Linked DNA regions of Homo sapiens. The protein of the gene in region 2 interacts with the protein of the main gene of each other region in a pairwise test. Each region holds a gene or a part of one and is shown on either strand. Other genes may lie near its edges.

Region 1 (12,190 bases), on a different chromosome or scaffold from region 2:
ACACAACTGGTAAAAAGTGTTCCCAGCACACATATCAAAGTACTTGTATCCAGAGTATTTTAACAACTTGCACAACTCTAATAAAAAATTTAAAAAGCCAGGTAAAAACTAGGCAAGGGACTTGAACAGGCACTTCGCTAAGGAAGACAGATAGCTAATAAGCACATGAAAAAGTGCTCGATATTATTAGTCATCACAGAAATGCAAACTAATGCCTCAGTGAGATACCACAGTGAGTCACCCAACAGAATGGTTAAAAGTTTAAAGCTGGCAATACAAGATTTTTTGGAGTACCCTAAGAAACGAGCACTGCTCATTAGAGTATAAATTGTCACAATAGCTTTGGAAATCTGTGTGAAGTTTCTTATAAAGTTAAATATACCACTACCCTGTGGCCCAGCCATTCCATTCCTAGGTATTTACTCGGGAGAAAGGAAAACAAAAGTCCACAGAGATTCATACGAGGATGTTTCTATCAGCTTTAATCACACAATAACTGTAACACATATCTATTTTTAGATTAGGGACCTTAAAATAGATACTGCACTTGATCGTAGCCAAAAGGCCAAGAAGCCATGTGAACCTTAAAAATAGGAATGTGCCAGGGGTCAGAAATGGATGATTAGCTAGTAGGCCCAGCTCTAGGGCCATCAGCCTAGAGGCAACAAAAGTCTCACTGCTGTTTGGTGGCAAAGAAACTTCTACCTCTCTCTGCCTTCTTTCCAACCCTCTTGATCCCTTAAAGAAATAAAAAAAAAATCAATCACCCAACATTTGCACTCACACGAAAATTCACACACCCTCTCATAAACTGTCTCATACACACTAACACACATACTCACACACTCACCCATTCCACACATTCACGCATATGCACACACAAACTCATAAACACACTCTGAAACACACATTCACTCATGTGCACACTCAACAACACAAAGTCACCCACACATTCACTGTCATACACACATTCACACACCGTCTCACTCTCACATATTCACATACTTTTACTAACACACATATACATTAAACACATAAACATACATTTGACCACTAACACACATTCACTCACACACAAAAACTGATGCATACTCACACTCAAATACAAACACACATTAACATATTCACACACCATCTCACACACTCACATATTCACACATTCGCTGACACATGACACACACAAACTCTCCTACACTCACTCTCACACAATCACTAGTACGCATACTCACACATATTCACCATCTCACACACACTCACAGAGATGGGCCTGGTTTTGATGCTCCAGGTGTGGAAGCCCAATAGTGATACAAGGGATCCTGGGGCCACTGGTCCAGCCTGCTGTCCCTCACCCTTCCTTAAATATGTTATTCATTTCTGAGAAGCTCAACCAGTGCCCTGAGGACCCAACCAGCCACTGCCTGGGCCTACCAGTGTCCTGTCTACTGGGACTATCCAGCCTGCTCAGCTGGGTTTCTTTGCCTGGGTCCGTGGGCCGTGAACCCTAGCTCATGACCAACATGCGCAGATAGGGCATTCTAGAATGCCTTGCAGACCGAGCCCCAAGTATACACCAGTGTTAACAAAGCCACTGTGGCCCTCACTCCACCCCAACCCCATGCCCAGCCAACCTCATCCCCAGTTTCCCACAGCAGAGGCGAGGCCGGCTGGAACACTGAATGAAGTTTATTGAAGAGAAACACGTACTGAAAACGTTGAAGAGAAGGGAATCACAACACAGAGAGAAACTGCAAACGGCCACCACAGGACACAGGTCCCACACAGGTCCCGGGCCCCCTCCTCCTGAGGTTCCTGGCAAGACGCCTCATCTGCTCCTACTCCTGCTGCAGCCCCCGCTGCCAACTCCCTCCTTCCTGAGGGCCCCGGGGTCTGCCTCTTGCCAGGAAGGTAGACTCTGGCAGTGTCCACTGGCTTTAGGGAGTCCCCTCCCAAGCCCATCTGCTGGGGCAGGGCCCTGCCCTATGGCCCGCACAGGACAGTCACAGGACACTGGAAAACACAGCAGGGAACACCCTACCAGGTTAAGGAAACTGAGTCATGAGTAACAACAGGGGTGGAACACCAAAGCACAAAGCTCCTCGGGAGCCTCAGGCAGGGCAGCCCCGCTCCGTCCTGGGTCCAGTTCTTCCTCCCACAGTCACGGTCACCATCGTGGTCACAGGGTGAGCGTCCGCCTTGCCCTGGTGCTTCCTTCCTGTCATCTCCTGGGACTGTGCTGGGGGACTCCGGGGAGGAGCTGCTCAGAGAAGAACACACACAGCTCCACAAGAACAAGCAGCCACTGGCCTAGATCTACACAGGGAAAGCAGAGGTGGTGCTCATGACGCGGGACAGCAGTGAGCAGAGCCTGGGCTCACAGGAAGCTCACAGCATGTGCCTTGGGCCCAGAGGCGGCCACCTGGGTGGGTGCATAGCACACTACTTTGCACAGGAACAACGGCTAGCGGTGGGTGGGCGTCTGCTGGACGCGTGGGTCACTACAGGGGCCTACACAGGTGAGGATGAGCTTCCTGGAACAGGGGGCAGCCTGTCCCGGGAACAGTGAGTTGGGGGACCCCTCTTGGGAGACCCAGGCATCTGGCACCCTTGAGAGGGCCTCTTTCCCCCTGTCATCTCCCAGCTCAGGGCTGGGGGAGTTTGGGACAGACGTCTTCAGGTGCCTCCACCCAGGCCATGGCTGGCTGCTTAGGGGATGCCTCCAGGCTGGATTCCCCAAGGTGGCAGGGTTGTGGCTGGCCTTGGAATTGGCATTGGCATCTGTTGAGTTGCTTTGGCCATGGCAGCCCCAGGTTCTCCTTGCTTGATCTCTCCAGGAGTCTGGTGGCCCTGTACAGAAACAAGCAGAAGAAACAAAACCCTACCAAGTCCTCCCTTTTCCTCCTCCTTTGCAACAAAGACTTCCCTTCACAGCCACCCTGGTCCAAGTCAACTGTGAGGGCACTGGCCTGCCGGGTACCCAGTACCCCTGCTGGGGGTCTTCTCATCAATCTTTGGTCTCCTTGCCTGCACAACCTCTGGCTGGCACTGGGCTCCCGGGGCCTTAGGGTCTCCTGTCCTCACTGGCACAGGGCCTCCAGGGTGCTGCCTTCCTGGGGCTCCCCTAGTGCAGTGTAGATGATCCTGAAGACGGGATGGACCCTGTGGCCTCCCCTGCAGGGCTTTACCTCTGCCCCCCAGCTCTTCCTCACCAGCCCTGGCACCTGCTGGCAGGGGCAGGCCCCAGGTAGGCTCCTCCAGGTCCCATGTGGCCTGGGGGCCAGTGGGCATGTTCAGCTCAAAGTCCACAGGGTGGGTATTTAGGGGTGGTTGGATGAGCAGGACAGAACCCCCAGCCGTACCTTCTTCAGCTTCTGCTTCTTTGGGGTCCCCATCTGAGGCCCAGGCACCCCATGTGCTGGATGCAGTGGCTCCCTGCTTTCCTCTCCAGCACCTCTTCGGGGACCTGGACCTGACCCCCACTGAGCCTGTTGCCAGGTGGTCTTGGTTGCTGAAGTCCCTTCCAGCTGGCCAAGGGTGAGAAGGCTTGGCCTTGGTCTGGCTGCCCTGTCCCTCTGCCCCACTCAACTCATCTGCTGTTTGTCTGGGCTTCTCTTTCCCCTCCTTCCAATATCTCTTTTGTCTCCTTGGCCTGTGGTAGGAAATGTTGCCCTGTTCTCCCGAGCCTACTTGGCCTTGGACTTGGGATGGCTCTTGTCCCAAGCCCAGTTCCCGTTTCCCGACTCAACTGCAGCCTGTTTCTTCTGCTTTACCAAGAGCAGGTTGGAGGGGTTGATGCACTGTACCCTGATGTGGCCGTCTTCCCCACAGCTATAGCAGAATGTGTGGCGTTTCCGTTTTCTTGAGCCTCGAGAGCCAGCCCTTGCCACACCACCCCTTCGGTGTTGGCCTCTGCCCCTCCGGCGCCGGTAGCCCTGGGAAGGCCTCGCATCAAAACTGTTGCCAGAGGCAGGGAGAGGTACTGCCCCAACCCCAGTGATCCTGGCAGGTGGCCTTGGGGCTACTTCCAGCCCCTCCAGACTCTCCCTATCTGGACCTAAAGTGGCCTCCCATTCCTCCTCCTCACGCAGGAGCTTCACCAGGGCCAGGAAACCAGGAGGCTTCCTTCGCTGTTTCATCAGCTTAAGCTTATCTCGGAGTTTGTCAGGAAGGGTGGCCCCACTTAAGACTCGTTTCAGGCGAGTCTGATTCACGTTTCTACGTGATACCACATTGTTTTCTACAGCTCTTTGGAGCAGGGGTTCCAAACGTAACACAAAGCTAGATACTTTCTCTCCTGCCTCCTGATAGGCTTTACACAACTTCACCTGGGCAATTTTATGGCTCTCCACAGGTCCGAACACCTGCTGCAAGGCAGCCAGGCACTCCTCCACAGTTATGGAAGCATTGCTGGCCCGGAGCCCACTGACCACCTGGAGAGCAGGGCCCCGTAAGCATTCCATCAGCCTCCGCCTCTTTTCCCCCTCGGGCACCTGCCACATCTGTAGCATCTCAGTGGTGTGCTCAAGCCAGGCATCAAAGGCCAGTGCACCTGGGATGGATATGGTGTTCCCAGAAAACACTCTTAGTTCTCGGTACAACATTTGTTCTAGCAGAGGCTGCACTGCTGCCCCCAGAGTCTGGGCCCAGGTCCAGAACTCTGGTGATATAGTCACTCTTGGAGCCGAACAATTGGTGTCCGACCCGAGGACTCGGTTCATATCTGACACGGTCCGCCTCTCCTCCTCTAAGAAGCGGTTCAGTCTGTTGAGAAATTCCCCATCTGAGTTACGGGGTTTTACAATCACTTCCCAGGGCCCCCCCTTTCCTGGTATTTCCCTTGGGAGCAAAGCATAGTCGATATCTTGTGCCAGCTCCAGTAGAATCGCCTGGGCGTTCTCCTCCCTCCTAAACATCCTGCCAATCACCCTGTATCTGCCCAGGTGCCTGCAAGCCTCCTGGAGTGTCTCCTCAAACTCATCCTCGCCACAGTCCTCGGGGATCCCCAGGATGAGCATGCACCTCCGGGTGTTCAGGTGTTCCCCCCGACACCAGTCCTGTAACAAGGTCAACGGCATGTCCTCGAATCTCTGCGGATACTAATTTGGGGGGAGTGATCAGGGCGTGAGGCACATATCTGGATCAACTCCTAGGGTGATCGCAGAAGGCCCAGGTCTCCACAGCCTGTGAATGCGAGCAGGGCGAGAGCGAGGTTAATGCCCACCTCTCCGCACGCCCACATCCACGCCCACCCCCACCCCCACCCCCAGCCGCCCTCCTCCCCGGGCGGCGCCTCTGCAGCCAGGCCCCGCCCCTGCCCAGCCCCCCACCCCCACCCCCCGTGGGGTCTCTGCGGGCCTCAGCCCCCTCCCCGCGCTGCCCCAGGACCCTGGACCCCTGCCCTGCAGGCTGCTTCAGTTCTGATAGGGCGGACAGGCGAGGGGCGGCGGAGTCTCCCGGGGCCCAGCGTCTCCCTCCCCAGGTGGGTCTGTTACCTTCTCCCAGGGCAAGGTCCCTTCTGGTCGGGGTCCCCAGAGGGCTCTCCGGGGGCTATGCGCGGCGGCGGCGGCGGCGGCGGACGGGGGTCGGGCACCCCTGGCTCCCAGCGCGGACGTTCGCTCAGACTGTGGCTCTCCCTCGCTCGCGCAGCACGTGGGCCAGTGCGCCGGCGCCTGCTCGCCGCGGCTCTCTGCAGTGCGGACACGGGGCGGGGGCGCGGCGGCGGTGCAGCGCGGACCCCTCCGCGTCGTCCGGGAGACCGCAGGGCCATTGGCGCGGACGGGTCACGAGGTCGGGCTCTCGCCGCCGCCCCTGGGGGCCCCAGGTCCCCGGGTGACGTCACCTGCTCCTCTCCCCTAGCCCCCCCGCCACGGGGGCCCCCGGGCCCCCGGGCACACAAGCGCCCGCCCACCCCCATCCCCACTGCGGTGGCCAAAGGTCTGTGGCGGCCAGTCCCCGTGCCTTTGGCTCTCACCACAGCGGTTCCTGGTCCCGGCTCCTGCCCCTCCCGCACGTGCCACGGAGGTGCCAGCGGGGCGAGGGGTCTGCACCCCGGCGTGCCCACCAGAGGGCCAGGGAGTGGTCTGAGGTGCGCCAGGCAGCTCTGCATTATGGCCAGGGTCAGGGAGCCGGGTTCTGGGGCCTGTTCACCTGCTCTTGTCCTCCCCCTCCCCGTCCAGGACTGGTCCTCTGGCTGGCGAGGCCAGGGGCACCTGGTGCGGGTGCCATTCCGTGCAGGAGATGCCCCAGGCACTCATGCAGGTCACGCACACCACCCCAAGGAGGGTCAGCCATCTCCCCGCTGTCCATCCCGCTGCTGGGACCTGAGGCCCTCCGGCCAAAGCGCTTCGCTGCCCAGGTGCCAGTGGACAGGTTTACCGGGACCTTTCCGGTTTTGTGCGCTGCAAATCTAGTGACTTGGGAAACCACTTCCAGGACTTGGAGCCCAATCCCTTGGGCCTGCCCTTCCTTGGCAGCCGTGCGCCGTGGGTTCTATTGTATCCGTTTGATCCCAGGGCAGCAGCCAAATGAAGAAGGGAGTGACTGTCCCTCAGGCAGTGGGCCCAGGTGTTCTGTGGGTCCTGCCTGCTCTGCCAGCCGCATGCTCAACTCCTATTCACACAGCTTCAGCTCCTCTCCAAACACAACGAAAAGGGGCTTGTGGTTGATTTTCAGGCCAGGTTCACCCATCCAGCCAAGTCTGGGAGGCCACCTTGCAGTGAGTGGGGCACAAAACTGTCCACTGACTTCCTGCCCCACCCTGAGTTCTGCTCGTCAGCCTGGCACTTGTCAGGGACCAAGAAGAAATGGCCCCAAGGGCTTTTTCCTGGTCAGACAGAATTCCTGAAACATCTTTACAGGAGTTATTTCATTTGCTCCTCACCAGAACTCTGAAGCAGGTATTAACATTATCCTGATTTGACTCATGAGGCTCAGAGAGATTAAGAGACATTTTCAAGGTCACACACCGTATTGAAGGTAGAATTGAGACTGGATTCTAAATTAGTGCCCATCAGTCTTTGGGTAGAATTGGGACTATTTCTCCCCTGGTTGCTTCATGCCTATTAGAATTTATTTCTCTCATTTTTGTCCATTCACAGTCCCTTGCTTTGTCACTCCAAGGGCTCAACCAGCTTCAAACTGAACCTTCATCTGCCCAACTTGCAGGGGTGGAAACAGAGGTTCAGAGAAGGGACACTACTGGCCCAAGGTCACACAGTGAGTAAATGACAAAGCTTGAGATGTCAAGGGGAGATGCCAAGTATTCATGCCAAGGCAGAGGGGCGTGTCTGGAATGTCTCCGGAAAGAAGCCTGTGAAGTTCCCAGACAGACGCAGTGATCTGTGGATGTTCTGGGCATTGGGAAAAAAGGATTTGGAAACACTGGTATCAAGACAATAGATGTGAATATGTCCAATTTGAAAAGTTTTAGAACTCCTTTATATTGGAGTTAACCTTTGCCCTTGAAACCAGTGGAAATGTCTTAATTACTTTTGCTTCCCCATCTCCTTGCATGGTAGATAACACAGCAGCACCAAAGTTGGGGAACTGATGGATAAACATTATTACTTGTAAAGTGAAAAACATAATACAGCATGAAGGAAGCAACCTCCACCGGGGTGGCCTTGCCCTGGCTTAGACCAGTAGTGACTATCGGGGTCACAAAAGGGGCAGATTCATGGGCCCCACCTCTGCAATCTGATCTGCTGAGTCTGAAACAGGCCTGGGAATTTTTTAAAGAGTTTCTGGTAATTAAATACTTTATAAAATACATTCTGCAATATTTAACATACAAAACGTACTTAAAAAGTACATCCAGTACTCCTGAATGTAGTAACTGGATGAAGACATAAAACACTGCCAGTGAGGGTAAGCGCCTGCAGATTCCTTCCCTGTTGTCTCCCACTCTTGTCCTCCATGTGCATTTCTTCGTGCTTTTTCTGCAAATGACTATATCCCTAAAAAATTGTCTTTGTCTCTTTTACACTTGGCAGAAATGATATCATACTATTCATAGTCATCACTGTATTAACTAATTATTGTTTGTGAGAATCACCATTTTGATATAAGCAAATTTTATTCCTCAATTTTCACTTCTGTATAGTATTCCATTGTGTGTGTGTGTGTACCAAAATTTATCAATTTTCCCATTGACAGATATTTAAGTTGTTTCCCATTTTTACTATCAGAAACAATGCTGCTTTAAATATTCTTGGAGAGTTCCTCTAAGTTATGTACCTAGCCATGGCATTGCTGAATCAAAGACTATCTTTAGTATTCAGAGACATTGCCAAATTGTCTTCTGGGTTGCTGTACAAATTTATGTTTCCATCAAGCTCCATATCATCACTAACATTTCATATTGTGTGACTTAAATGTTGTTAATCCTGAGGAATGTCAATTGTTATTATGCTTTTATGTAGAATTTCTATGATTATGAATTAGATTTAATACCTTGGTTGGGGGGGCATTTTTTATTCCTCTTGATTGAAATTCCTATTTTTGTCTCAATTCTCAACTGGGGTGCTTCTCTTTTTTAATTCTTTCATAGGAGTTATTTATTTACTTTGGATATTTCTTCCCATTAAGTTACTATTCCTGCACAACCAGCTACCCAAAACATACTGGCTTAAAACAACCATTTTATTCTGCTCACAATTTTGTAAGTGAGAAATTGAGAGAAGGTTTAGCTGGGCAGTTCACTCATGGGATCTCTCATGTGGTTGCATTGAGATATGAGTTGAGAATCAAGTCTAAAGACTCAACAGGGCTGGGCACCCAAGATGGTTCATTCATATGGCTGGCATTGAGTCACACTTTTGGTACTTGCAGCCCAAAGCACGCTAATTTTTATAGAAGCTCAGATAACAATAGCTCCTCTGAATCATCATTATTGGACCAATTAAGTTTTTTATTTGGACTTTAAGAAATTTCTCTGGGAAAATACACAAATGGACAGAAATTACACCTCTTAATTTAAGACTGTTATGGGTTGAATTATGTCTCCCCATACCTCAATTCATATGGTGAAGTCCTAATCCTTAGCACCTCAGAATGTGACCTTATTTGAAAATAGGGTCATTGTAGATGTACTTAGTTAACATGAAATCAAGCTGGAGTGGTGTGGGCCCCTAATCCAATGTGACAAGTGTCCTTATAGCAAGGAAATTTGAACACAGAAACATGAAGATGCTCAGGGAGAACACCATGTGAAGATGAAGGCAGAGATTGGGGTGATGCTTCCACAAACCAGTGAATGCCAAAGATTGGCAGTAAAGCCCCAGAAGCTAGGAGAAAGGTCTCTGAGCAGATTCTCCCCCACCACTCTCAGAAGGAACCAACACTGACAATACTTTGATGGTCTTCTGGACTCCAGAAATGTGAGACATTCCATTTCTATTGCTTTAGCCACCTAGTGTGGTACTTTGGTACAGTCACTCTAGAAAACTAATAAAAAGATTAAACTGCAAATCTTCGAATGGTAAAAATGCTGAAAGGTTTCTGAAATGGAATCTGGACTAGATGGCATAACTATTTAATAATGAGGATACATGAGAGCCAGAGGAGAGCAAAGGAATTACTTATAAGATAAAAAAAATAAAAAAATAAAAAAAAGAATCTGGAAGTAAAGAGACAAGAACGACTCCCCAGAGTGGCCAAAGCCCGTGCACCACTGCATCCCTCCCCCAGAGCCTATGTCCCGCCACTATCACCACCATCCCCAAGAGAAAGGCTGAAGGGGATGCTAAAGGAGATAAATCCAACATGAAGGACAAACCACAGAAAAGATCCAAGAGGTTGTCTGCTAAACCTGCTTCTCCAAAGCCAGAGTCTAAGCCTAAAGAGGCCCCTGCAAAAAAGTGAGTGAAGGTACCCATAGGGAAAAGGGTAAATGCTAATGCTGGCAGGGAGGGGAATAACCCTGCAGAAAATGGAGATGACAAAACAGACCAGGCACAGAAAGCTGAAGGTCCTGGAGATGCCACGTGAAGTGTCTGCATTTTTGATAACTGTACTTCTGGTGACTGAAGAGTTTGAAATACTATTTTTTATCGAGTTTTATAAAAATTCATAATTTTGTTTTACTTTTTTTAAGCTATGCTGTTAGCACGCAGAGCACTTCATTGTTGTTTGGGGGGAAAGGGGCATAGGTCACTAATAGAATGTCTATGAAGCTGGATTGATGTGGGGAAAACACATTTCCCTTCTAGGTTTGAGAGACTTCCTATTGGTTCCCAAGAGGAGAGATTCCCTGACTTTGACACACATGGCCACCTTGGCACAAAAGCCTTGGTATGGAAAAACAAATTGTTTTTATGTCCTCTTCTCCCTTTCCACCTTTCATCATAGACTTAACTCACTCAAACCCAGACACCTGTTGGGACCTGAACCCAAATAATTGGTTACCAGTGTGTCAGGCAATCTGGACTTGCCTGTGATGCCACTGAGATGGTGCCCCTCAAAAGAGCAGCGGTTCTGTTTCTAGATTGTGGATCATCAGATAAATTCTGCCATTTTCATTTCACTTCCTGAAAGTCAGGGTCAACTCATGAAAGGTTGTTAAAACAACATGCTAAATGAGAAATGTCAACCTTCACTCTAAACTTTCCCTGTTCAGAGCATCAGATGAAGTCTTCATTGGGTTTTACAGTGGCTTTCTGATTTTTGGTAGTCCATTGAAGTAGGGAATTTGAAATGTTTTATACTGTGAATGACTGCCCATGTCCTGCCTGAAATACCATGATTGTTTCTGGAAAGTATCTTTAATAAAGCTAGATACAGTTTGGCTTGGGGAAAAAAAGAATCTTTCTTTTACAGGTTAGATTTAAGTAACAGTTGGTCACTGTCTGTTCCCTTTTCATTTGCCTCATTGTGCTCTAAATAAGAACTTTTACATTGTTCCTGACCAACAGAAGGCCAGGGCCCCCACAAGAGCAGGCCGTCCTTGATTGTAGGATGATGTAAAGTTACAATTACCAATTCTTTTTAATCATAAAATTCCCACACAAACAGATAGTGATTATGGGTCAAAGTTTTATTTAACTAATCAGTGAGGGAGGAGCAGAATGAAGAGCTGGTTCGAAAAGATTTGAAGGACTTATAGTTTTGGGGGAAAGAAATGATGAGGTAAATTGCTAAGTTAAATTCAAAACTGATTTACTCCTTGAGACAATAAGGCCATGGCACTTATTTCCCATTCAGGAAAAAAAAAATCACACCTTTGTTACTTTACAGAATTGTAAAACATTTGGGCTAAAATGAATTTTAGTCAATCAAAGTTAAATTTCTGGGAACAATCAAGTGAGTCCAGAATTAGAAAATTATCTAGCCCAATATTAAAAAGTCAGAGTCATCATTTTGCAGCATTTTAAATTTAAAAACTTTAGAGCTGTTTTAGGTTACCAGCAACACTGAATAGAAGGTAGAGAGTTCCCATGTACCTCCTCTACACTGCTAACACACAACCCCTGCCACTACTGACATCCTGCACCAGAGTGGTACATTTGTTACAACTGATGAAAATACATGGACAAAGCATTGTTGCTCACAGTCCATAGTTTAATTAGGATTCTGTATTAGTCTGTTCTCACACTTCTATGAAGAAATACCCGAGACTGGGTAATTTATAAAGAAAAGAGGCTTAATTGACTCACAGTTTCGTATGGCTAGGGAGGACTTGGTGGAAGGGGAAGCAAACACATCCTTCTTCACACAATGGCAGAAGAGAGAATGAGAGCCAAGTGAAGGGGGAAGCCCCTTACAAAACCATCAGATCTCATGAGAACTTACTATCACAAGAACAGTATGCGGGAAATTGCCCCCATGATTCAATCATCTCCACCTAGTCCCACCCTTGACACGTGGGGATTATTACAATTTAAGGTGAAATTTAAGTGAAGACACAGAGCCAAACCATATTATTCCACCCCTAGTACCTCCCAAATGTCATGTCCTCACATTTCAAAATACAATCATGCCCTTCCAACAGTCCCCCAAAGTCTTAATTCATTCCAGCATTAACCCAAAAGTCCAAGTTCAAAGTCTCATCTGAGACAAGGCAAGTCTCTTTCGCCTATGAGCCTATAAAATCAAAAGCAATTTAGTTACTTCCTAGATACAATGGGGATATAGGCATTAGGAAAACACACCTGCTCAAAATGGGAGAAATTGGCCAAAGCAAAGGGTCTACAGGCCC
Region 2 (12,383 bases):
CGCTTGAACCCAGGAGGTGGAGGTTGCAGTAAGCCGAGATCGCGCCACTTCGCTCCAGCCTACAGGACAAGAGTGAAACTCCATCTCAAAAAAAAAAAAAAAAAAGTAGGAGTACACTCTAAAGTAATGACAAAAAGTATAGCATAGTAAATACATAAACCAGTAGCAGAGTCTTTCATTATTATTTGCAAGCATTACCTACTAATTGTGTGTGCTATACTTTTACATGACTGGCAGCATAGTAGGTTTACACCAGCATCATCCCAAACACGGGCGAAATGCAATGCGTTGTGATGCCCCTAGGTAATAGGAATTTTTCAGCTCCACTATAATCTATGGGATCACTGTCTCATCACATATGGAGTCCATAGTTGACCGAAACATCGTTATGTGGTGCTGACTGTAATTCAGTCATTCAATGAAGGGCAGGGGATGAAGCTACATTTTCACAAATACCATGTGAATCTTCCTTGGGAGCCACATTACTGTGAATCAGGCTAACGCAAGCCAACGTTTAGCAAACGAACCACAGAGGCGGGTGACTAAGGAAAGCAGCTTTCTTGATTCTTCAGTTAAAGACACACCCTGGGTTTACCCCTTCCACCCTCATATGTATATACACGCACTGGCAGCATCTTCTTGCCTTTGAAAAGATGTCCCCACCTCTGGTCTGACTCCCTGGATCTGATCATCAGCCGGCCACTCAGCAACTTTAATCCAGGCTCCCAACAGCCCTAGGACACCCGTGATCCACAGGAGGGCAGAGAAAGTGGGGAGGGGAGCACTGCGTATCAAGGACGTGCCGTGAGTCAGAGGCACTGCCCGCGGGTCCCGCTGCCCGGCAGGTCTGGCTGGCCAGCTTCCTGCAGGCTGCAAACCTCTCTCTCCATGTTCTGCTTCTAAAGCCAGGCCTTAGGCAATGCAAGGCGCCCGCAAAACCCTCAAGATGGGCACCGTGGGGACCCTGAGACAAAGGCACTTGTGTGCGTTACCTCCTTCTCCTCTTAAGCAAGTGAGGAAAACAGTGACGGGAAAGGCCAAACTGGGGAAGAGCCCAGGCGTCTGCAAACACACACAGTCATTCTTCCGGGATCATTAGTCACCTTCCTGCTCCTGGGGGACCCCTCCTCACAGCGTCCCCAGACTCATCTGCCTGGTGCTCAAAGGGACAGACTTTCTTGGAAAATAAGAGTAAGGATATAAAATCCCACAGACGTCCTCAAACTAACAGCCCTGGGTACACCTCCCTGAAGGTGGGCTCATCCGGTCCTACCCTGCTGGTTTCTGCTACACGCAGCCACTACTATCCCCTGTCTACATTACCACGAAATGAGCATGCTGTGAGCAGCACTGGCTCTTCCTCATTAGCCAGCCAAATGGGCGGCAGCAGACAGCCACCCTGTCTTGGCTCAACAGATGGGAGACACTGTAAGGAGAGAGGTTAAGTGCCCAAGGCCAGGCAGCTGCACTGAGTCCTAGTGCTGGAATGAGAGCCTGGATTTTCCATTCCAATGAGCTAACCTTACCCCTCCCACAGGATCCCAGTGTGATAATAAATACCATGACCTAGCACCTGCACAGAGAGCTTTATACTTTTAAAGCGGTGTTCCCTGCAAGCCTGCCTGTATTTTCTCACTACATGCGTAAGCGGACCTGCCAGGGGAGGCAGGATGGGCACCGTTACCCCTCCTTATTTCAGATAAGAAAACTGCAGCCTTAGTGGACCACGGAACTATGATGTAGTGCTCTTCCCAGTAAGTGACTTATATACATATACTATGATCTGGAAAGGAATCTTCACGACTAGTCCGAATTCAAAACACTATATTGAGTGCAACTTCGACTCACTGCTGAAATGAGAAGGTGTCACAGCAACTGCAATTTGTTTCAGAGAGAGAAGCCAGACGCAGCCAAAAATATCCTGTGGCAATAACCATATGTCATCATCCTTCTTCCTTGCTTGCTGGAGTACTTGCCCAAAGAACTCCTAACTATACGTTAGAGCCCTGCATTCTGTGCCACACTTTCTGGGTGCCATGATTTCCTGGAGTTACTCCCTCGACTCAACTCTGGTTCCTCCATCCCAACAATGCAGCTGGGCCCCATCATCAATCTCAGCCCTTTCTCATATTCTAGAATCCAGCTCAAGGGCTCTGCTGCCATTAACATCTGAGTCTGCATCCAACATCCTACTGGCTTGCTCCAGCCTAATTCCCTTCCTCTCTTCTCTCGCTTTCAGCTCTGGAGCAGAAAAAGGCCCGAGTTCTAGGGCATGTAATTTTTCTGAAGTTCAGTTTTCTCAAATATGAAATGAGAAACAACACCTGCCTTTTCTCACCTTCAAAGGAGAGCTAAGAGGATCAAATGACCAAATAAAAGCTAACAATACAAAAATAATATAAAATTAACAATTGCACCAGCAATATATAAACATACCCAGGCATTGAAGTAATACTTTTAGAAATAACAAGAGGAGCTGATATTAATGGGGCATTTGCCATGTGCCTTAACATTCTAGGTGTATCATCTCAATTAATTCTCACAGCAACACTGAAATGGGTAAAGTTATTAGCCCCATTTTATAGATGAGAAAAATAAGGCAAAGAGAGGTTTCAGGAACTTGACCAGGTGCCACTCCAGGCAGTCTGGCTGCAGAGGTTGTGCTGTTAACCTAAACAGCTCTAATAATCAAGCACATTGCCTCTGATACAATCTGTCATTAGCTTTGCATGTTAAGGTTTGCAAGAGCCATTCACAAATCTATCTCACCTAAGCTTCCCAACAGCCCTGTCAAAAAGGTAAAGTAGATGACACTAGTCTAGATTCACAAGGAGAAAACTAGCCCAGAGAAATGATTAGCCCAAGGTTTCCAAGCTGGTTAATGGCAGGACCAGGACTTAAATTCACGGGGCCCACACCCCGCCCCAGTTTGGTGACCTTTCTAGGGCCTCAACACCAGCATAAGTCTGACACACAAACACTCCTCCGGGTCCCCCACCCACAGCAGTGTCTCAAATGCACCCTTTCTGGTCATGCCAGGGAATAAACACTGTTGGCTAAATATCAGCCAGGGTCTCTCTTTCACCAGTGACAGCCATCACAGACCACGTGGCCAGCCAGAACTCAAGGTCCCAGAGCCTTCCAAGTGGCTCTCTGGATGGATCTAATGGATCCAGAGGCTCGGTGGACCCGGAAGAAGTTCCCTCAGTGACACAAGGCTGCAGTCCCTCAACTTGACCCACACGGCCAGACGTTTCCTAGACCTGTTATGCAACCCTTGCTTCAAGCAAGCTGCTGCTGGGATTTCTCCCTATTTCAACATGTTTTGTTTTCTCTTCAGAGAGAAAGCATGAATGTGAAACCATAACACCTCTTAGTACCCGACAACGGCCCTTCCTGACTGTCTGGGGTTACGAGGAGGGTGGGGGATGTTTTCAAGAGCACCTTCTGTGAGCCAACTTGAGCCTCCAGAATGACTAACCACCGTGGGAGGGAGGGTGAGGATGGTGGGGAGGGAACACAACTGAGGACCACTGTCTCTCGCAGGAGAAAGAACAAATTCCAGAGTGCCCAGCAAAGAAACTAGAATGACGCTACCCTGTAGGCTCTAGACCTGCAAGACGGCAGCAGCTTGAGCAGTTCAGAGTCCATACACGCCAGACCTTGTTCTTCCAGCCCATCTGAAAGTCCGTCAAGACAGGCGACTCTTGTCTTGAAAGGGAGCTGGTTCTGTCGCCTTAGCTCAGGGTCTAATTATAGGAAGCACGCTTACTTTGAGAACGGGGACCAGGCATTCTTATTTTTGTAGCCCAGTGTCTAGCACAGTGCCTAGCCAAGAGGGCACTCAGGAAACGTGGAATGACATGAGTGGCCAAATGAAGACATTGCCTCATCGGGGTATAGCTGCTGCTTGCTGGGTTCTACACACACACACAAACACACACACACACACACACACACGACAAACAACGGAGCCAAGAAAGTCTTCTTTGTGGCCATAACATGCATGGATTCAAAACCAATGCAAAACAAAAATCAAAACTGGAATTTGTTTAATGGCAAGTTTTTTTTTCTGGTTTTTTTTTTTTTTTTTTTTTTTTTTGAGATGAAGTCTCGCTCTGTTGTCCGGGCTGGAGTGCAATGGCGCGATCTCGGCTCACTGCAACCTCCGCCTCCCAGGTTCAAGTGATTCTCCTTCCTCAGCCTCCCAAGTAGCTGGGATTACAGGCACCCACCACCACGCCCAGCTAATTTTTGTATTTTTAGTAGAGACGGGGTTTTGCCATGTTGGCCAGGCTGGTCTCAAACTCCTGACCTCAGGTGATCTGCCCGCCTCGGCCTCCCAAAGTGCTGGGATTATAGGTGTGAGCCACCACGCCCAGCCAATAGCAAGTTTTAAAGCTTTTCATAACTTTTTTTTTTTTCATCTTTTTTAAAAAGCCGTGCCTTCCTTCATTCAACCAATATTCACAGAATACTTCTTTGTCATTCTGTGGATGAGTCCAAGAAAGGCTGGAGGAGGAAAGAGTTTCAGTCTGTGTGCCTGCCATGCAAAGGTCGGGCTTTACATGCAAGGCAAACAGAAGTGCTGAGGGATTATCAGGTGGGGAGACACACAGGTGTGAACTACAGAAAGACGTGGCTACTCCCTGTCTTTCTGCAGGCTTGCAGGCTCTGCGGCAGGCACCACGAAGAATGGGCTGGATCTTCCACTCCAATCAGCTAAACTTACCTCTCCCGCAGGATCCCAGTGTGACAAAAAACACCATGACCTAGCACCTGCACTGAGCTTTACACTTTGAAAACTGTGTTCCCTGCAAACCTGCCTGTATTTTCCAACTAGATGCACTAAAACGACCTGCAAGGGAGGCAGAATCGGCACTGCTACTCTTCTCTATTTCCGATGAGAAAACTGCAGCCCACCAGGAAGCTGCTGGGCTTGGAGGCTGAAGAGCAGGACCAGCCATGGCTGACGTGCAGAATGAACTGCAGAAGCTCCTCCATCAAATACTTACTGAGCACCTACTGTGTTTCTGGCAATGGGAATACAGTGGTGAACAGAAGAGCATACATCCCTGCCCACTTGGGGCCTACATTCTGATGAGGGAAGAGAGACCATAAACAATACAAATAATACTATAAATATAAGTAAAATATGTAAACAATATAAATAAACGATGGTGTGTGTTACGAAGTAACAACTGCTGGGGAGAAAAACAAAGCAGCAATGGGCAATAGGGAAATGTGAGGCAGGGGAGAGTAATCTCATTTTTTTTTTTTTTTTTTTGAGACAGGGTCTTGCTCTGTTGCCCAGGCTGGAGTGCGGTGGTCCAATCATAGCTCACTACAGCCTCGACCTCCCAGGCTCAAGCAATTCCCCCACCTCAGCCTCCCAAGAAGCTGAGACCACTGGCGCATACCACTATACCAAGCTAATGTTTTTATTTTTTGTACCTATGGGGTCTCGCTATGTTGCCCAGGCTGGTCTCCAACTCCTGGCCTCAAGTGATCCTCCCACCTCGGCCTCTCAAGGTATTGGGATTACAGGCGTGAGCCACTGAGCTCGGCCTAAACTCACTTTTAACTTGGGCAGTCTGGGATCTCAAGGAAGAGGAGACATCCAGGTCCCTGAACCAAGGCAGTAAGTAGCTGTGGGGAGGGAGAGAAGGAAACACATTCAAGAAGTACTACAGATACAGCCACAGGCAGGCCTTCCCTGCATACAGGGCAGCAGTGGGAGAAAAGCTGATGACCATCCCAGGGTGCAGAAGGAGGCAGAAGGGCAGGCCCGAGGGGAAGCCAGGACCACCATTCTGGCCACACTGAGTCTGAGGAGGCTCCGAGGCAACTGGAGATTCAGCTCCAGAAAGTCTGGGCCCAAGATAGTGATCTGGGAGCCATCAGGTCCCAGGAGGAAACTGAGGCATGTGTGCTGGGGAAAATGAGGTGGAAGGGCACATTCCTGAGGAGAAGCCATGCCCAAAGAGGAAAACTGAGGATCGCAGGGCCAACCCCCTCTCGGAGGTGCCCCTGGCAGGAACAGAGGCAGCAGGGTGGGCCAGGAAGATGATGGGTAGCCAGAAGTCTCTGTGAGGCTGCGGCTGGGCAGTGCAAAAGCCAGGAAGCAGGGGTGGCAGTGAGGAAGTAGAGACCAGTGTCAATAGTTCTTTCAGAACATGTGTTGTTTTAAGGAGGAAAAAAAGGGGCAACAGTTTGTTTATGGGAAGAAACATTGGGGGTGCATGTGAGGTCAAGGTGAGAAGTCTGGGGTTTATTTAAGACAGGATGGGCTTGGATCTGTAGAAACACTTTTGAGAAAAACTCAATGGAGCAGGAAGCCTAAAGATCCTGGAACCGAGTCACTCAAGAGTGAGGGGACAAAAATGACATCACCATCACCATTTATTGACAACGTACGCACCACGCACTGTGGCAAGAACTTTACATATGTTGCCTCATTTAATTCTTACAACAACCCTATAAAATAGCTCTTGGTATTTGATATGGTTTGGCTGCGTCCCCACTCAAATCTCATCTTGAATAGTGGCTCCCATAATTCCCACGTGTTATGGGAGGGACCCAGTGGGAGGTAATTGAATCATGGGGGCAGTTTCCCCCACACTGTTCTCATGGTAGTGAATAAGTCTCACGAGATCTGATGATTTTATATGGGGAAAACCCCTTTCACTGGGTTCTGTCCTCTTTCTTGTCTGTTACCATGTAAGATGTGCCTTTTGCCTTCTGCCATGATTGTGAGGCCTTCCCAGCCACGTGGAACTGTGGGTCCATTAAACCTCTTTCTGTATAAATTACGCAGTCTCAGGTATGTCTTTATCAGCAGCTTGAAAACAGACTAATACAGTATTCATATCCCCACTTTGCAGAGAAGGAACCTGAGCTTAGAGAGGTTAGGTAATGTGCCCAGGTGTGCAGCCAGTATTCAAATCCTGGTGTCAAGGTGGTTTGTATACATCTCCCTTCTCTGCCACATTGATATACCTTAAAGGAATGAAGACACCTGTTCCCTTATAGTGGGGGTAGAAGGCAAGAGAGTTTGGAAGGACAGTGACAGGAAGATGGGTTTGATTGAGGTCCTGGTTTCCCTATGACATGGAAGCAAGATGCCAGGCTGAGGCTGACAACAATAGGGTGGGGAGCTAAGGGGCAACAGGACCCTCGTGAAGGATGCAAGCAGCTGCCCAGACATGTGGAGCTGAGGCCAGGGAGCATGCGCATTGGAGGCAGTGTGAATGTCCCCTGAAGGGCTTCGCTGCCCAAGGGACAGATGGGCTGTCCAGGACCCAGGTGGGGCAAGCCAGGGTTGGAAGAACCAAAGGCAGAGAAACTAAAGGCCCCAGCAGCTGCAGCAGTCAATCTTGGGGTCCAGGCTATAATAATCTGGATTTAAGATCTCAGGAAGATTCTGAGTTAGGTCAAGGGACCATGGAGGTGAAGGCCATTGACTCAGAGGTGTAAGGAATGGAGTGATTTGGACTTGAGTCGGGTGGGGACGAAGAGGGGCCATCCTCAGGGTGAGGACGGGATCTGTGGAGGTGAAGTCTGTGCATCAGATGCCAGAGTCCTCAGGGAATGAGAGAAAGTGATGGCAATCATGCTGATGATGATGAAGATAAAGATGAGAGCAGACATCAGAGAGTATCAACTGTTCTGTGCGTGTACCAGGCATGTGAAGTGCAGCGAGGGCTTAACCCTCCTCACAACCACCCTGGGAGATCGGTACCATCTCTTCTTCTTTTTACAGATAGGGAAATAGCACAGAAAGGTTAAGAAACTTGCCCAAGGTCACACCTAACTGGGAAATGGGACCCGGTCCAGGGATTTGGACTCAAGGGTCCATGCTCCCAACCCTTAGCAAGAGGAGCTGGATTTCCATCAGGAGGGGGAAGTGAAAGAAACATTCGGTAAAGAGGGGAAGATGTAAGGGAGCTTGTTAACAAGGAACTTCCACAAGGCCCACTGGAAAAATGAGAGAAGTGGGAAAGAAGCAATGGAAAGCTGGGTCAGGAAAGAGAAAGCAGGAAGAAAATCAGGATCCCCATTTGACAAGTAAGGACATGAAGAAGCTAAGTGTCCTGCCCAACCAGTAAGTCAAAGACTGGAATTTGAACCCCAAGATAGTTCTCTAAGGGTGGGAAATCCATCTCAGTAGGAACTTGAGGGAAGGTTGAGGGAACTTTAGGGAAGGTTTCCAGTTCAACAAAAAGAAAGAGGCTGGGCATGGTGGTTCATGCCTGTAATCCCAGCACTTTGGAAGGCCAAGGTGGGAGGATCGCTTGAGCCCAGGAGTTCAAGACCAGTCTGGGCAACAAATTGAGGCCCCCATCTCTACAAAAAAATACAAAAAAATTAGCCAGGCATGGTGGCATGTGCCTGTAGTCCCAGCTACTCAGGAGTCTGAGCTGGGAGGATCACTCAAGCCCTGGGAGGTCAAGGCTGCAGTGAGCTGCAATCACACCACTACTCTCCAACCTGGGTGACAGACCGAGACCCTGTCTCAAAAAAACAAAAAAAAAGAGAGAGAGAGGGAGAAAAAAAAGAGAAAGAGATTGGATATACCCCTCCTATGACAAACATCAGACACAACATTCAAGGTGGGCATGGGAGTGGCAAAGCCATGCATCCTGGCATGGTCCAGCCAACACCATGATCACAGGGGTATGTCTGTGGCCAGCATGGATGGGACATGACAGCCGGTATTTCGGATTAAAAACAAAAACAAAAACACAAATTCTTTGACAAGAAAAGGTTCCGTACTAGTGGAGACAGGAAAAGAGCCAAAAAGCTCTGGGGTTCAAGAAAGATGCTGAAGGCTTCCACACCAGCAGGTGAGTTCATCCGATGAGTCAGAAGAAGGAAACCCCTGAAGTCAGAGAGAGTCAGAAGCCCAAGACTAAAAAACAGAGAAAGTGGAACTGATTCCCCAAGACTGGTCACTGCTGCAAGACAGGACAAAACTCATCTCTAATGAGATGGCCACATGCAGCTGAAACGTGCCCAAGTGGAAGCCAGGAAAAGGTTTGGGAAGCACATTCCTCCCTTCCAGGTGACACGCACATCCCCCACCCCAGGTGCACACCCCTGTATAGTTTAAGCAAAGCAGCTGATTAAATCCTCCCATTCAACCCCAAATACCTCTCCCTACTAAAAAGCTGAGGCCCCCTTTGCTGTTCACAGTACTCTTGGGCACGCGCCTCCAAACCACGCTCCAGCCTGCCCCTCCCCAATTTAGGGCAGAGAAAAGTGGATGAGGTTCTCACACTCCTCAGGGTAGGCCTGAGGGGTACAGGCCATGGCTGCCTGGGGGTTCATGAAACAAGGAACAGGACTGCAGCTCACAAATACCCCTTTTTTGATTCCTCGTTCCAAATTCGCCTTTTAAGAAAATCACCTCTCATCAAAGGAGAGAAAAGAAGGGAGCAGGGGGATGTGAGGGAGAGGAGACAAGAAGGGAGAGAGAAAAATCATTATAGTTTTGTCCCAGGAACTAGAGCAATTTGGGATTTCACGCCCTTCTGAAGCTGAATGGCATGGACCGAACTGCACTTTGTTTGGAAAGCAATGAAGTGGGTGGGAGGGGACTCTGGCAGCTGCCTGCACTGCCCCCCAGCACCCTTCCTACCAGTCTGCCTGCAGCCAGGAGAAAACTCAGAAGAGGAGAAGTCAGAAGTTGAGGTAATGCTCTGCTGAGCTGGGCAGGCTGGCTGTGCACACCATAAGGTCAGCCAGGAGGCTCCTAGAGGGAACGCTCCGTGGTGCACCAACCTGGGAAGGAGGGCTCATCCTAGGAGAGTCACAGGCAGGGTTTCCCCCAACAGCAAAGCAAAAGAAGGGTTGTGAAAGGGTCAGCGGAAGTCCCCCGGCTTCAAATCTTTCCTGTTTCCTTCTGCCCCTGCTTTCCCCAGGCGGGACTCGGCATGGTCTCCGAGTGGTGTGCCTAATCTGGTTGGAATTTCCTCCTCCACCCACCTGGCATGCTCCTCAAGTCTTGAGCTCTCCTGATCAGACCAGGGGTTCTTGTATCCACCCCAAGTGCCCCTTGCCACTCTGGAACACCAGAAAGAGGCTCATGGAAAACCTGCCACCAGACCCCGCCTAGACAGGAGTAAGTCATTGCCACCATTTGGTGAGAGCCCTGCAGAGACCCTATACTCCCTCCCTGGGTATCACTTTGCTGCTCACTGTCATCGCAGGGGCAGCCAAAGGTCCCAGTAGACTGGCCCTTTATGGATGAATGAGTGCTCACATCCCACCATGGGAGGACCAAGGGAAAGAAGAAGACACAGGAAGCAGCAGGAAAGTTGCCAAAGGTCTTCCAAATACCCATTTCATAATCTCAGTGTTGCCTGCTGGGGCTCCAGAGATATTTTCTCAGGTTCAGTGGTTTTCATATTTGTTTGACCACAACTCCCAGCCAGAAGTACATTGTACACGTCTGTAAAATGCACTCAGAGACACACACACAACCCAAACAGAATTTCAACATTTCTCCCACTGCATGCCAGGCACACCCGTATTTTTACACTCTCACTAATAACTTCTTTTATTTATTTATTTATTTTTAAATGCAGAGTCCACTAATGGGTCATGGCCCACCATGTAAAAAACACTAGTTATTAAAGTGACACTGGGGATGTGAGGTGTGACCTCACGAAGAAGCAAATTTAATATTATAATGGGAAGCATCCACCAGGCCGACTTTGCACTTAGAACTGCAAAATAAGTAGCATCAGGTTCAGGGTTGAAAGTGACCAGCACAGAGCTCCACAGTCCACATTACCTAGGATAGAAAAAAGCCAGCCGATTCAACATTCTTATTTGTCATTACAAGATCAAAGTTAAAAATGGCGCCTTTCAAAACTGGAGAAAGCTTTCTCTCTTTCAAGATCCGATTTACATAGATTTGTTTTCAGCTGTAATAATTCTTTTGATATTTCAAGTAACATAAAAGAGGACGATGGGTGTTGTGTGTTCAGAGAAACGAGGCATGGGTTAAAAATGTGGAGAGGGACTGAGCAGGTCCACTGTCCCCACTTTATAGTGACAAAACTAAGGCACAGAACAGTGCCCGAGGCATGAAGCAAGTGAGAGCAGGGCTTGAAGCCCAACCCGGGTTTCTTGACTCAGTTACTCCCGGTCTTCGCCATCATCCAAAATACTTAAGAGGAACACAGGTGTGGTCTCCCCCAAGCCTTTCCATGATGGAGGATGCACCCCTGACTCCTCATGCTTGGCAGACAACTGTGCTGATGTTGGCAGACCTTGGCACTCAGTGGCAGCCTCAAAACCAACCCTGCACACTTCAGCATGGAAGGGCCCCTAAGGGTCAGTTATAATCCCAGAACCTAGAAGACTTCACTGATTAGCTAACCCACGCCTTGTTTTACAGACTTGTCTAGGAAAACCAGACCGGCTCCTTCTACCATTCACACCATGTTAACCTGTCCACAGGTGAAAACTGCTATGGAAAGTAATACTAAGTATACAGGTGACATCTGAACCAAAACATATCAACATGTATGGGGCAGGGAGAAACTAAACACAGATCACACAATTTAAACGTGTGAGAAACGCCTCTTGAGAGTGTCAAAGGGTGCTCAGAAGGCACAACTAATTATTTCTAATCCTAAAAATAAGCTAAAATGATGCTCTAAAGTGAACTCACTGTGGGGTTCCCGAATAGAACATTCATCTCAAGACACCAGTAGGACTAGGGCCTGCTCAGATAACACCTCCCTGCTCCTAACTTTCCCCAGACTCTGCCCAGGGCAGTTGAGACAACAGCTTCAATCATGGAGAATTTTATTACATTTGAGGGATTCTTTCCCATACAAATGCCACCTGGTATCAGTCCAGTGTCTTTCCTGGAGATGAGAACCATTCCTCTAACTCCCCACTGGGACACTGGAGGGACATATGGGTGATGGCTCAGGCTTAGGTCCAGCAGCACCTTGGAAGCCCATGTCTTTCCTCACTGGACTTCTGCCTGTCCAGACACTGACTGCTGGCTCCAAGCGAGCTCCCCGGAGCCGGGAAAACCCTCTGAGTTATACTTTCTGGCCTTCATACCTGCTCATGCAGGACCAGCATCAGCAACAAGATAAAGCTGCTGGGGGTGCCTCTGTGGGACCTGCCTTGCAAAATAATTGCCACCTAGAGAGGCCTCCGAATCCTCCAAAGCACACTGCAGCTGCAGCCAGAGGATAGGAGGTGGTGTAGGAGCCTGGGCAAGGTAATCGGTTCGCCTCTCTGCGCCTCAGTTTCTTCATCTGTTAACCCCCAGGGCTGTTGCATGAATTAGGCGAGTTATGCCTATAAAAGTGCAACGTGTAACAGTCAATACTGGCATTACTTCCTGCACTACT

The links.
Region 1: the proteins of SLC25A37 (region 2) and PNMA3 interact in binary tests that used the Homo sapiens proteins (3 or more experiments, as listed by UniProt).

What each region holds. Positions count from the first base shown.
Region 1 is NC_000023.11:153,049,938-153,062,127, reverse strand, and holds PNMA3 (paraneoplastic antigen Ma3), read right to left. Parts: upstream 5,659-12,190; 5' UTR 5,490-5,658; intron 5,179-5,489; 5' UTR 5,073-5,178; coding exon 3,681-5,072; 3' UTR 3,647-3,680; coding exon of another isoform or gene 3,584-3,646; 3' UTR 1,666-3,583; downstream 1-1,665.
Region 2 is NC_000008.11:23,530,100-23,542,482, reverse strand, and holds part of SLC25A37 (mitoferrin-1), read right to left. Parts: intron 5,650-12,383; exon of another isoform or gene 5,579-5,649; intron 1-5,578. UniProt on the Homo sapiens protein: Mitochondrial iron transporter that specifically mediates iron uptake in developing erythroid cells, thereby playing an essential role in heme biosynthesis.